2 separate regions of the Homo sapiens genome follow, and region 1 is linked to region 2. The links come from fine-mapping of genetic effects on gene expression. A gene starts in region 2. The other region holds a variant in brackets. All regions are shown on one strand. Distances are from middle to middle.

Evidence for each region. PIP is the estimated chance that this variant, and not a neighbour inherited with it, causes the effect.
Region 1: its variant is fine-mapped to the expression of MAFTRR in testis (GTEx, PIP above 0.99). The same link has a PIP of 0.9 or more in breast, sun-exposed skin, tibial artery, transverse colon and unexposed skin.

The regions. Positions count from the first base shown.
Region 1 is chr16:79,713,467-79,718,845 of GRCh38, reverse strand. It overlaps LOC105371356 (a long non-coding RNA gene), which reads right to left. Exons shown (of 5, transcript XR_001752268.2): 3 at 4,712-5,010; 4 at 3,959-4,031. Among named protein-coding and RNA genes, the nearest start is that of LINC01229, 54 kb to the left of the region's middle. RefSeq lists an enhancer at 5,083-5,212. The variant A/G (reference allele first, on the strand shown) is at 2,126.
Region 2 is chr16:79,767,667-79,773,045 of GRCh38, reverse strand. MAFTRR (MAF transcriptional regulator RNA) reads left to right here and starts at 2,514. Exons shown (of 6, transcript NR_104663.1): 1 at 2,514-2,599; 2 at 3,824-3,893. It overlaps LINC01229 (long intergenic non-protein coding RNA 1229), which reads right to left and starts at 2,575. Exons shown (of 4, transcript NR_104660.1): 1 at 2,519-2,575. RefSeq lists silencers at 2,255-2,304, 2,229-2,427 and an enhancer at 2,425-2,474.

The DNA.
Region 1 (5,379 bases), 54 kb after region 2:
TGGTGGCTGGCGCCTGTAGTCCCAGCTGCTCGGGAGGCTGAGGCAGGAGAATGGTGTGAACCCAGGAGGCGGAGCTTGCAGTGAACCGAGATTGTGGCACTGCACTCCAGCCTGGGCAACAGAGCGAGACTCCGTCTCAAAAAAAAAAAGAAATATAGATGTTTTTGTTCTCCATATGGTGAGCCAATTTCTCAATACCATCTACTAAATAATCTAACCATTCCCCATGATTTTTAAGCCATGTTAAACATATTTCAAGTCCTCATTTATAAAAAGGCCTGTCTCCTAGGCCTCTGTTCTGTTCACTGGTCTCTGTTCTCAAGCCAGAAGCAGACCAATTTTACGATGATGGTTTTGTAGAAGGTTAACATTTTGTAGGATAAGCCCCTCCTCCATATTCCTCTTCTTCACAGTTGGCCTAGCTCTCTGGGGGGACTTTACTCTTCTGTATCCATTTTAGCATTAATTTTTCTGTGTTCCACAACAAAAAATTTTAAAAAATACATCCAGCTGGAGTTTTTTTTTTTTTTGCAATTTCATTGCATCGCGTTTTCTTTTCATCCTTTAAATAAAACAAGACGTTTTTCTTCAGATGTTTTTCAGGTGTAAGCTGAGTCTTGGATATGTGCTCTCATTTCACATTGTAAGTCAAGGTGAAGGGTGTAACTCCAGTGAGGGACACTGGCACTTTTCTCCTGACCAGCACTGTCCCAGGGCACCCAGGAAGCCTTAGCTTTGGTACTGGGTTGGGATAGTTCTGTTAATGCCTGATCCCTTCTTGAGTAATGACTCTGCTCAGGAAACTGTGCCTCAGGGCTCAGATTTCCCTCCATTTAAGCTTGTGGCTTCTTGGCCTGGAGCTTGTTTCCTTCCCAAAATGTTTGTTAGTGCAGTGGCTTTTTATGGCACTTTATGGAAAAATTAAGGGGTGGGGTTGATGACCGTATTCTGCAAATCAGCCCGTCTTTAACCTTCGTTTACTGGAATTTGAGTCCTCTGCATACCTTGTTAGCAGAAAAAACTTCAAATATATTTTTTTCCATCCAAGCTCACAATTGGAATGTTCTTTACCTCTTAACTCAGGCCAGGACAAATGTGGCCCAGGTTCTGAAAAACAGCCTCTTATTTAAAAGGCTTGTACAGCAGCCTTCGCATAACATTTACGACTGCAGTTATCTACACATGGATCTAGAGGGGGCCTGGCCTGTGAAAATCAGAGGACAGAGGCCACTTCATCCTGCAAATTGCTCAGGCGGGCAGTGTTGGTGAACTCAGCCCTCACTCCCCGGAGCCCCTTTCTAGCTTTAAAATCATTCCTGGGGAACTATTGGATTAGAAAGGAGCCATTCAGAAGGTGGCAGTTTCTCTGCTTCTGGAAAAGGGGGTTAGGAGACTTAAGATACAACCCAGTCTCAGATAAAGGGTGGGAAGTCAGAGATATTGGCCGTGGTACTAGCAGAGGAACAAAGGCCAAAACAAGGTCTTCCAGACATGTCATGTTTTTCTTAGAACTAGGGCCTATATTACACACAAATTTGAGATTATCTCCGACATTTATCTAAAATTAACTGTGGTTTTCAAAAGAAAAACATTTAGGGGAGGATCAGATAAGAAGGAGGCCTATTTATAATACTTGCCACGGGGAGGGAAAGGGAAGAGAAAAAGCAAGAGCAAGAGCAAGAGCGAGAGCAAGAGAGAGAGAGAACGAGACAGAGATCCTTAAAATGATACTGAACATTCTTGCGACACCATAAGCCATAACTCTGACTCTCTTTCCCTGCCTTTTATGAATAACAGAAAAGAGAACTTTTATCCTGATCCGCTGTAGTTTCTTAGAGAAAATCCTGCTCCCAAGTAGAATGCTGGATTTCCATCTCATTCTAGTTATAGTCAGAATTGGGTTACAATCATTCTGAACCACTGAGTGTGGCACAAGTCAAAATGTTTGTTCCTAGAGATTGAGATATTAGTCAGTGATGTCTGGCTCTGAAATGGTTATTTATAGATTGGAACGACCTGGAGCAGCCAGCAGAGTGACAAATGAGGAAGAGGACAGAATCTAGCTGAAGAAGCTCTGGAAGATACCATTTGAAGTCTTGAGTGCTTGAACTCACAAAGAAAGCAC[A/G]TGAGTACACACTAGCACTTGAGCTCTTCATTTTAAACAGAATAAAGAATGTACTGCTATTATTGTCATTTTACAGATAGGGAAATTCAGACTCACCAGGGCTACTCAGATACAAAGAAAATGAGCCAGAATTTCAAGCAAGCCTGAGCTTAGAATCTACACTATTTTTTTTTTTTTTTTTGAGACATGGTCTTACTTTGTCACCCAGGCTGGAGTTCAGTGGTATTAGGTTGGCACAAAAGTAATTGTGGTCTCTGCCACTTAAAACTAGAGCCCGAAACTGCAATTACTTTTGCACCAACCTAATGCACTTACCAGAGCTCACTTACGCCTTGACCTCCTGGGCTCAAGTGATTCTCCCACCTCAGCCTCCCAAGTGGCTGGGAATGTGGGCATGCACCACCCTGCCCGGCTAGCTTTTCTTTCTTTTTTTTTTGTGGAGACAGGATTTTGCCATGTTGTCCCGGCTGGTCTTTAACTCCTGAGCTCAAACTATCCTTCTGCCCTGGCCTCCCAAAGTTCTGGGATTACAGGCATGAGCCACTGTGCCCGGCCCAGAACCTATGCTCCTAACTGCCACACCAATTGACCTCTATTCAGCCATTTTTATTTCTATAGCACTTGGTATAATTTCACTTTGCACACAGTATCTATAGATAATCATTCCAGGGCATGTAATCGTCATAAGATTATTTATGTTATTGCATGTGTATTACTGCATGTAATCTTCATGTGTTATTGCCTCTAACAAGTTATGTATTTCCATGTAGTCTTCATAACTGTGTATAGAAGACCATTTTAGAGATGGAAAACTGAGACTCAGAAGTGGTAATTGTCCTACTGGTCAGAGATTTAGCCAGGGTTTGGATTGTGGAATGCAGAGGACCACTTACTTTTCACTAGACCATAAATGCTCCTCACCACTGAGGCATGTCAAATGCCAGATATCTCCAGGAACCTTAGGCTACGTCTCCATTGTTTTTGCTTTTTCCCCCCTTAGACACAGCTTGGCAAAGAACAAATGATCCCAAACACCAAACAGCACACTTGGAAACATTTAACCCGCATACTTTCAGACTTTCTGGCATGGACCAACCTCTTGTCTTACCTTTGTTCCTGGCCAGAAAGAAATGGCATGAAAAGATGGACAGTTTTTATAACCTCTTTGAGCTCTAAACCATGTTTCCTGTGCACTTAGGAGATCTTAATAGAAACCAAGTACTTCTTTTAGGCATCTATACTCTTAATGCCGTAAGTCAAGTCAAGTACCCAGGTGGTTAAGATAACTGTACCAACAGAAACATTTTTAAAAAATATCCTAACACAACATGAAGTGACCATCGCGAATTCAAAGAAGCAGGCATATTTCTTAAAGGTTGAAAAGAGGTGAGTCTTTCACAAGATTCTAGCTCAAGGCCATATTTGCACAAGTATAGTCATTCCTCTAGCAAGGTTTTGTTTATCTGGCCATTAAAAAAAATTAAAACAACTTTTACTTTCGGCTGTTTGAACAAGAACTGTTTTTCCAGCTGTGCAGTCTAAGGAGGATACAAGAGGCCTGGTTTGGTTATATTTTTTCCAGAATAAGAAAGTTTCCTACACAATTCTGCTTGGGCTAAACTGCATACAGAGCAGTTTATTTATACTGTTTTATCGCACACCTGTTTGGATATGGGCTATTTTCTGGTATTTAAACATACCGTTTCTTGCCAATTGCTTTATCTTCAGAGTCCTATGGTTTGGCTGCAAATGTTTGTTATTAACTCAGAAAGAAACACCAATTGCTCTATGAACATTATTAGTGAGGACTAAGATAACTTAATTGTTACTTACTTCAAACATGTTATCACTGAAGAACTTTATCCCAGAAATCCATTCAAAATAAGGTAGAGGCCATTTCACTATACTTAAAGGGAAAAAAGGAGTTAACAAAGCCTTTTTGGAATACAATCTTTAATGAAACACTGTTTTTCTAAAAAAAGCCACCTGCTTATTTTGAGCTAGTATGTTGCAATGGAAGGAAAACATTGCCATTCTAGTCAGTAATGAGCTATTTTACCCACTAAGGAAGTTCTGGGATACACAGATGGCAGCCTGAGAATTTGGGCAAAAGCCCTGACTCCACTCACATGACTTTCTCTGAATCACTTAAACTCTAGGTACTTCTCTTATTATATCAGTAAAATGTGGGTCATAATAGCTATCCAGTAATTAGATCGTTTAAATCAACCCATCAATATTAAATAGCTATGATGTGATAAAGTTTGGTCTTGGCCTTGGGGTATAGAGATGAATGAGACAAAGTCTTTATATCTAGAAATTCACATTTCATAATGCTGCACATAGTAGGCCTCTCTTCTGTGTTAGGGGAATCTGAATATTTATGTGTAGATTCATTAGTAGCTAACTATAAAGTTAAAACGGAACCTATAGAGTTGCAATCTAACTGTTTATGTGAAGGGGTTAGTTTTATCTTGCAGCTAAAAAAGCAGACTAAAATACTAACTTAACAAACTCTATTAGTAGTCTATAACTGTGTAACAAACCATCCCCAAAGTATAGTGGTTTAAAAAAATAGGCACTTACTGCTCACAGTTTCTGTAAGTCAGAGCCCTCGGGTGGTTCAGTTGGGTGCTTCTGCCTTAAGGTCTTTCCATAGGCTGCAATTTGTTTGCTGGCCAGGGCTGCGGTCTCATCTGAAGGGTTAACTAAACGGAGATCTTCCAAGCACAGTCAAATAGCTGTTGGCATTGTTCAGTCCTTTGTGGAGGCTGCTGTACTGAGCACCTTAGTTCCTGGCTGGCTGTTGACTGGAAGGCACTCCCTCAGTTTCTTGACATGTGTGCCTCTCCATAGGGCAGTACATAAAGAGGTAGCTAGTTTCCCTGAGTAAGAGGGAGTGAGCAAAAAAGAAACCACATTCTCTGTGTAACCTAATTTTAGAAGTGACATTTCATCACTTTTTCGATCATCTGTTTAGCAGAAGAGAGCCAGTAGATCCAGCCCACACTCATGGGGAGTGGATTACACAAAGACAGGACTATCACAAGGCAGTGATATCTGGGGCCATCTTAGCGGCTGCCTACCATACAAATGGAAGCTACAATAGGTAAAGACCCATCAGCAGCCTCAACCCTATCTCAGTATAATGGGGTTGGTTCCATAGAGTCTCCACTTTCTGACACAGCGGGGCAGCCCCCTCCACATCTCCATGAGAAGCTTCTGTTTCACTTGCAGGGCAAATCTTCTGGGAT
Region 2 (5,379 bases):
CCTCGTGACCCCATATGGTTATTTATTAAGTCAATAACCTCTCTTCACAGGAACTGATTACATAATGTTTTATGGTATTTTTCTGTTCGTACAGAAAAGCAAGAAAGAGCCCTGGGTCAGAAGTCGGGCAAAGTGGATTCTAACCTACATATCACTACCACCTAGCTGTGTAACCTGTAGTAACTTAGCCTATTTCTCAGGGCCTCAGTTTCCCTCAACACCAAATAAAGTGCTCCAAAATTTGGAGATGGTTTCAAAGCCATGTCAGAGTCCCTTACAACTGCCACAGAGTGTGATTATCTTTGTTGGTAAACTAAGTGTCAGGGAAACACTCAGGCTTTCTTCTCATTTATTTCAGACTTTCACGCCATTGGTGATTTACTGATCATTTCATCTCTTAACTAAGAGAATTAGATCAACATAATCCAGAGAATAAAAACTAGGCCAATCTTTACTAGAAAAGAAGATTCAGATTTCAGGGTAACACAGATGGAAGAACATGTGGCTTTTCTGCCAGGCCCAGTGGAAGTGTATTCAAGGTTTGTTCCCTCCAGGGATAGCCGGCATCACACCAACCTCACTCACAGTCCAGTGTTTACAGGCACTCGAAAACCTCCTAAGAGTGTATTTCATAAAAGCAGGGCCTGTCCAAATCCCCTGTAATGTCTCCAAAGTGAAAGGATAGAGTCAATAATCAGGACTGTATCTGTGTGTTGTAAATGCCCCAAACCTCTATTCCCTCTCTGAGTTCTCACAGGCACGTGTGCATGCACACACACACATAAACACAGCCATAAATATATACACTCCCATTTAATAGACTGGAGATTCAAATTACAGTTATAGTGTCATAAAACTATCTGTAGGGTGTGTGCAGAAGTCTAAGTGTGTGTGTGATGTGGGTTGGGGTGGCAAGCTTACAACCTTCCTCCTTCCCTTGAGGTTCGACATTCTCAAAACGTGAGATTCCTCTGGGACATTTAAATAAGCTGTATTCATAGGGGCGGCTACATAATTTGCAGACCCAGTGCAAAATGAAAACACGGGACCTCTTCTTCAAATCGTATTAATAACTTCAAAACAGCAACAGCAGAGCAGTAAACCAAGTGTAAGACCTTCTAAGTACAGAATCTGTGCATTTGGGCTGGTCACACACCCACAAAGCAAGCTGGGGTTTGAGGATAACACATAGAGAGAGTCTGGATTCGATTTTTGCAATATACACCATTTCTTTAGGAAAGTTCAAACTTTCCCTCTGAAGGCTCTAATCTAAGTCTGCTGAATGAATTGACAAGAAATTAACAGGAGAAAAGCCATAACAAAGCTATTCAATCATAGTTTTATGTGACATGGGAGCCCTCAAAATGAAGACCGCAAGTCCCAGATAAAAATAGATACCCCGGGTATCTGTTTTTACCCGGGCTTAAGTTTGATGAAGCATGGATAGCCAGGTAGAAATAGGGTTAGACAAAGAAGAGTCTGATCTAATAGCAAGAGACTGAGGCAGAAAACCCAGCACGGCCTGTCTGTTCAAATTTTTCTTAGCTTCTCTATGTAGCACGTCTTCCTCTCCAGTATGGGGCAGGACCTACAACCCACAAGGTAGGTCAGAGAATTTCTTTATGGCCATTTCTGAAAAGTGCTTGCAGAGGTTCCTGGCATCATGAAACCAGAGTGTCTTGGGAATCAGACTGGCTTGGGTTTGAATCCTGTGTAACCATGTACTAACAGAATTTCTCTGACACTTCCACTCACCATTTTGAACTTCAATTTCCCATCTATTAAATGGAGACAGGGCAACCCACTCTCCGAATTACAATTAATTAGAGGATTAAATGCAATAAGGCATAGAAAGCAAACAAAATTCGAGGTCAAAGCCCGGTACATAATAAATGTTCCAAATTGCCCTTCATTTTGGGCACAGATCTTGCAGATCAGTTCAAACAAAAACACACTATATATTAAAAGTGAGGCTATTGTAATTGAAGACCAAGAGAGATTCGGAAACCTGACAAATCGTTTTCAACCTGTCCGTTCTTTTGCCTCTAATGAGACTTCTCCTTTGGGTGGGAAGAGATGACCTTCTGAAAAGGCCCTCCGTCCGCGTCAGAATTTGGCGACTAAAGCATGCATGAGCTGGGAATGGTGACAAGTTGCAAAGGGAAAGGGGGAGGGTAGGCAGGGTAAGAAAGAAAACTTAGGGCTGGGGTGTGAAGGGTCTCTTGGTTTGTTTTCCTGGCTGGGACAGCGAACTTCTCCGCAGCCAAGTTTCTGGAGCGGGGCCGGCCGCTTCGCGGCTCCCATTGGTCCGGCCGCGGCTGTTGCTAGGCGGATGGACCAATGGCGCGCGAAGGGCGTCTGGGCTCCTCCTCTTCTGGGCCGCGGCTGGAGCCCGGGAAGCGGCGGCGTCCGCGCTTCTCCCGGCGGCTCTTTCTCTTCTTCTTTTTTTTTTTTTTTTTTAAGGCGGGGCGGGGCTGGGGGCGCGGCGTCGCGGAGCTCGGGCCGGTGGAAGGTTTACCTGCTAGGCTCGTCCCACCTGTGTGGAGCTCCCATCGCCCTCCAGCGTTGCGCAGCCTGAAGGGACAGGACGGACAAGCGGGTATTTTTTCCCCCTCACGCAAATGTGTATTTTGTGTTTTAATAATTTTATCAACTCGGTGAACTCTCGCGAGAGCACTCGCTGCGTGTCTTGCCTCTGTCGTCCTTCCCAGTCTCTAACCGGCCCCTGGGCCACCTCTCACAATTGAGCCCCCAGCCCTTGAACACACGCACACACGCACACACGCTGAGCTACCGCCAATGCTTGAGCCCCCAGCCCTTACACACACCCATACACGTGCACAAACACACACACACGCTGAACCAACTTCAACACTTGAGCCCCCAGCCCCTAGAGAGAGACACACACACACACGCTGATGCGGGAGCATTTAGCACAGTTTCCTTGCTGAAAAAGCAGGACCTCGGTTTAGAAAATGGAAATTGCCCAGGAGGAAAAGAGAGCTGAGATATATGCAGCCCCAGGTACTTAGGGTTAGTAATAATATTGTTAATAATACTATCGTTTCTGAGGGGTTTCTACCAGATACTGTGTTGAGTAGTTGCCATGCTTAATCCTATTTAGAGCTTGGTGTGCCCATGGGTAAACAGAGGCACTGAGCAGGGGAGGCAGAAGCAGGACTGGAAACTGTCTGTGTAACTTTGGAGCTCTTGGTTCTATCCACTTACTGGTGTGGTTGCATGGCTGTACAACTGCCCATGTGGTTATGGCCCCCATCTGGGGATAGGTCTCAGTAGAACCTACATCGCCAGGGCTATGCCAGCCTTATGCAGTCCTATGCATAACTACCAATTCTCAGAATGAGCATGTTTATCACCCTTGGCCCATCCTGCCCCATCACTGTATTTAACACTTGCATCTTAGGTGGATCTTCCTCAATAATCCTGGAATGAGTAGAAAAGACCCATGTTCTGTGTGTTTGGGGAACATCTTATCTTCATCCTGCAACACACATCCACCTCGGCAGCTTCCCCTCAACTAATGTGGGAACCACAACTCAGAGAGGAAAGTGACTGGATCAAGGCTACTCTGATCAAAGCTGGTCACTTCCCACATCTGTGAGACAGCAGAGCCAGTTCTCTGCTTGGTGAAGCAATTCCGTAAAAGCATTTCTCTAACAAGTGACTGCAGACTTCACGTGAACTCAGCTGCATACTGGAAGTCACTGTGATTCTAATTTTATGAAGAATTATCAAGTTGAGCATATTTAAAACTGTGTGGGGCTTTTTTTCTTATACAGTTTCCTTTTTTCTTTTTTTCAAGGTGCCTCCTTCTAATTCATCTTCACCATTGTGGTTGTCAATATGGCATGCAGAATTATCCCTCTTTCCAGGTGAGGACGCGGAGACATGGAGACACATGTAGCCCAGACACATAACAACACAGTAGGCAGGCCCAGTCTTGGAGCACAGATTCTTCCTCCCCCTCCCCACACCTTAGCTAGCTTCTTTGCTCTCCCTGAGTGCCTATGGCTTACAAGTTATCCATTTACAACAAAAGGTTGTTTATTCAGAATGTAGGGACTGGGAATACAGAAGCCAAAAAAAAAAAAATGAAGTGAGAAATGAAATCCCTTCTGTTTTGTTGTTTGGAAACTGCCTGGGAAGTGGCCTGCCAGCTAGGAACAGGGTTGGCTGGTGAAGAAGCCCCTGGCATGACATTTTTCTGCTTAGCAGATGCCTGTGTGCCACCCTCGCCCTTGCTCTGAGCCTGGCAGTCAAGGGAAACGTGTCTGTACTCACTGTGCTATTGTCTAAAAGGCTCAGCAGAAAGGCCCCAGCTAGCTTCCTTCTTCCCTTCGCAGCAGGAGAAGACCTAGGCATGCCCACCTCCTACCCTAACAGACAGCACCTAAGAGATGGTTCTTTTGATAACTTAAAGGAGATATTTTTGAACGTCAACACAAGACAGTATCGCCCAGCAAGGGAGAGGTTTTCGACTCCACCCATCCCCAGAGACTCACTTGGTCTCAGAGAGAGAGTACTGTCTCCTTTCCTTAAATCCCCCTAGCTTAAAAAGCCTAGCCAGAACCCTGCCTATAATCTTTCGCCGTAAAGTTTATCTTCTAACTTTTCTTTAAAACCTATGGAAAATAAAAATCGGGATTGGAGCAAAGCAGATTATTCTGTTTGCAGAGGCTGATATAATTGCTGGCTGTTTTCCCTGGGATCGCACTGTAACTCTTTAGGCAGCCCTGAATTTTAAAGGATGTTTGCAAAGCAGCTTTCTTCCTGAACACTGTCCTAAATCCCTCCTGTTGTAACCCTCCACTCCCTCTGTTTGCCCGGCTTTGCCCGGTGCAGTGAGACGCCTATCCACACAATGGTTTGTCTCTCCTGCTTTCAGTTTTCTTTTCAGCCAACAGCCTCACAAGCATTCTTTCTCCCTTCTGCAAGTATTCCTGTGGAGTGTGTTCTGCCTCTCTGCTAGACGCTGGGATATAGGGAGCCAACACAGACAGGGCTTACAGTCAAGTGGGAGAAATAATACCCAAACTTTCACAAACCCCAGCTTAACACTACTACAAAGATGTATGTTCATGACACAGTGACAACATACGCTAAAGGGACTTAAACCCAATTAGAGCAATCAAGACAGGCTTCATAGAGGAACAGACCTGTGAGGTCTCATAGATAGACAGAGGGTAGAAGTTGGAGATGAGAGTAGATAGAAGTAGAGCTAGCACAGGCAAGTGCCCTCTGCTGGGCTTCGCATCTGCCCTGAGAACAGTTAACAGAGCCTGTTCAGGCCAATCCACTTTCCATGGATGGGAAATTACTTTTTATGGAGACTGGTAAAAATTAGCTTCTCTAAGAACA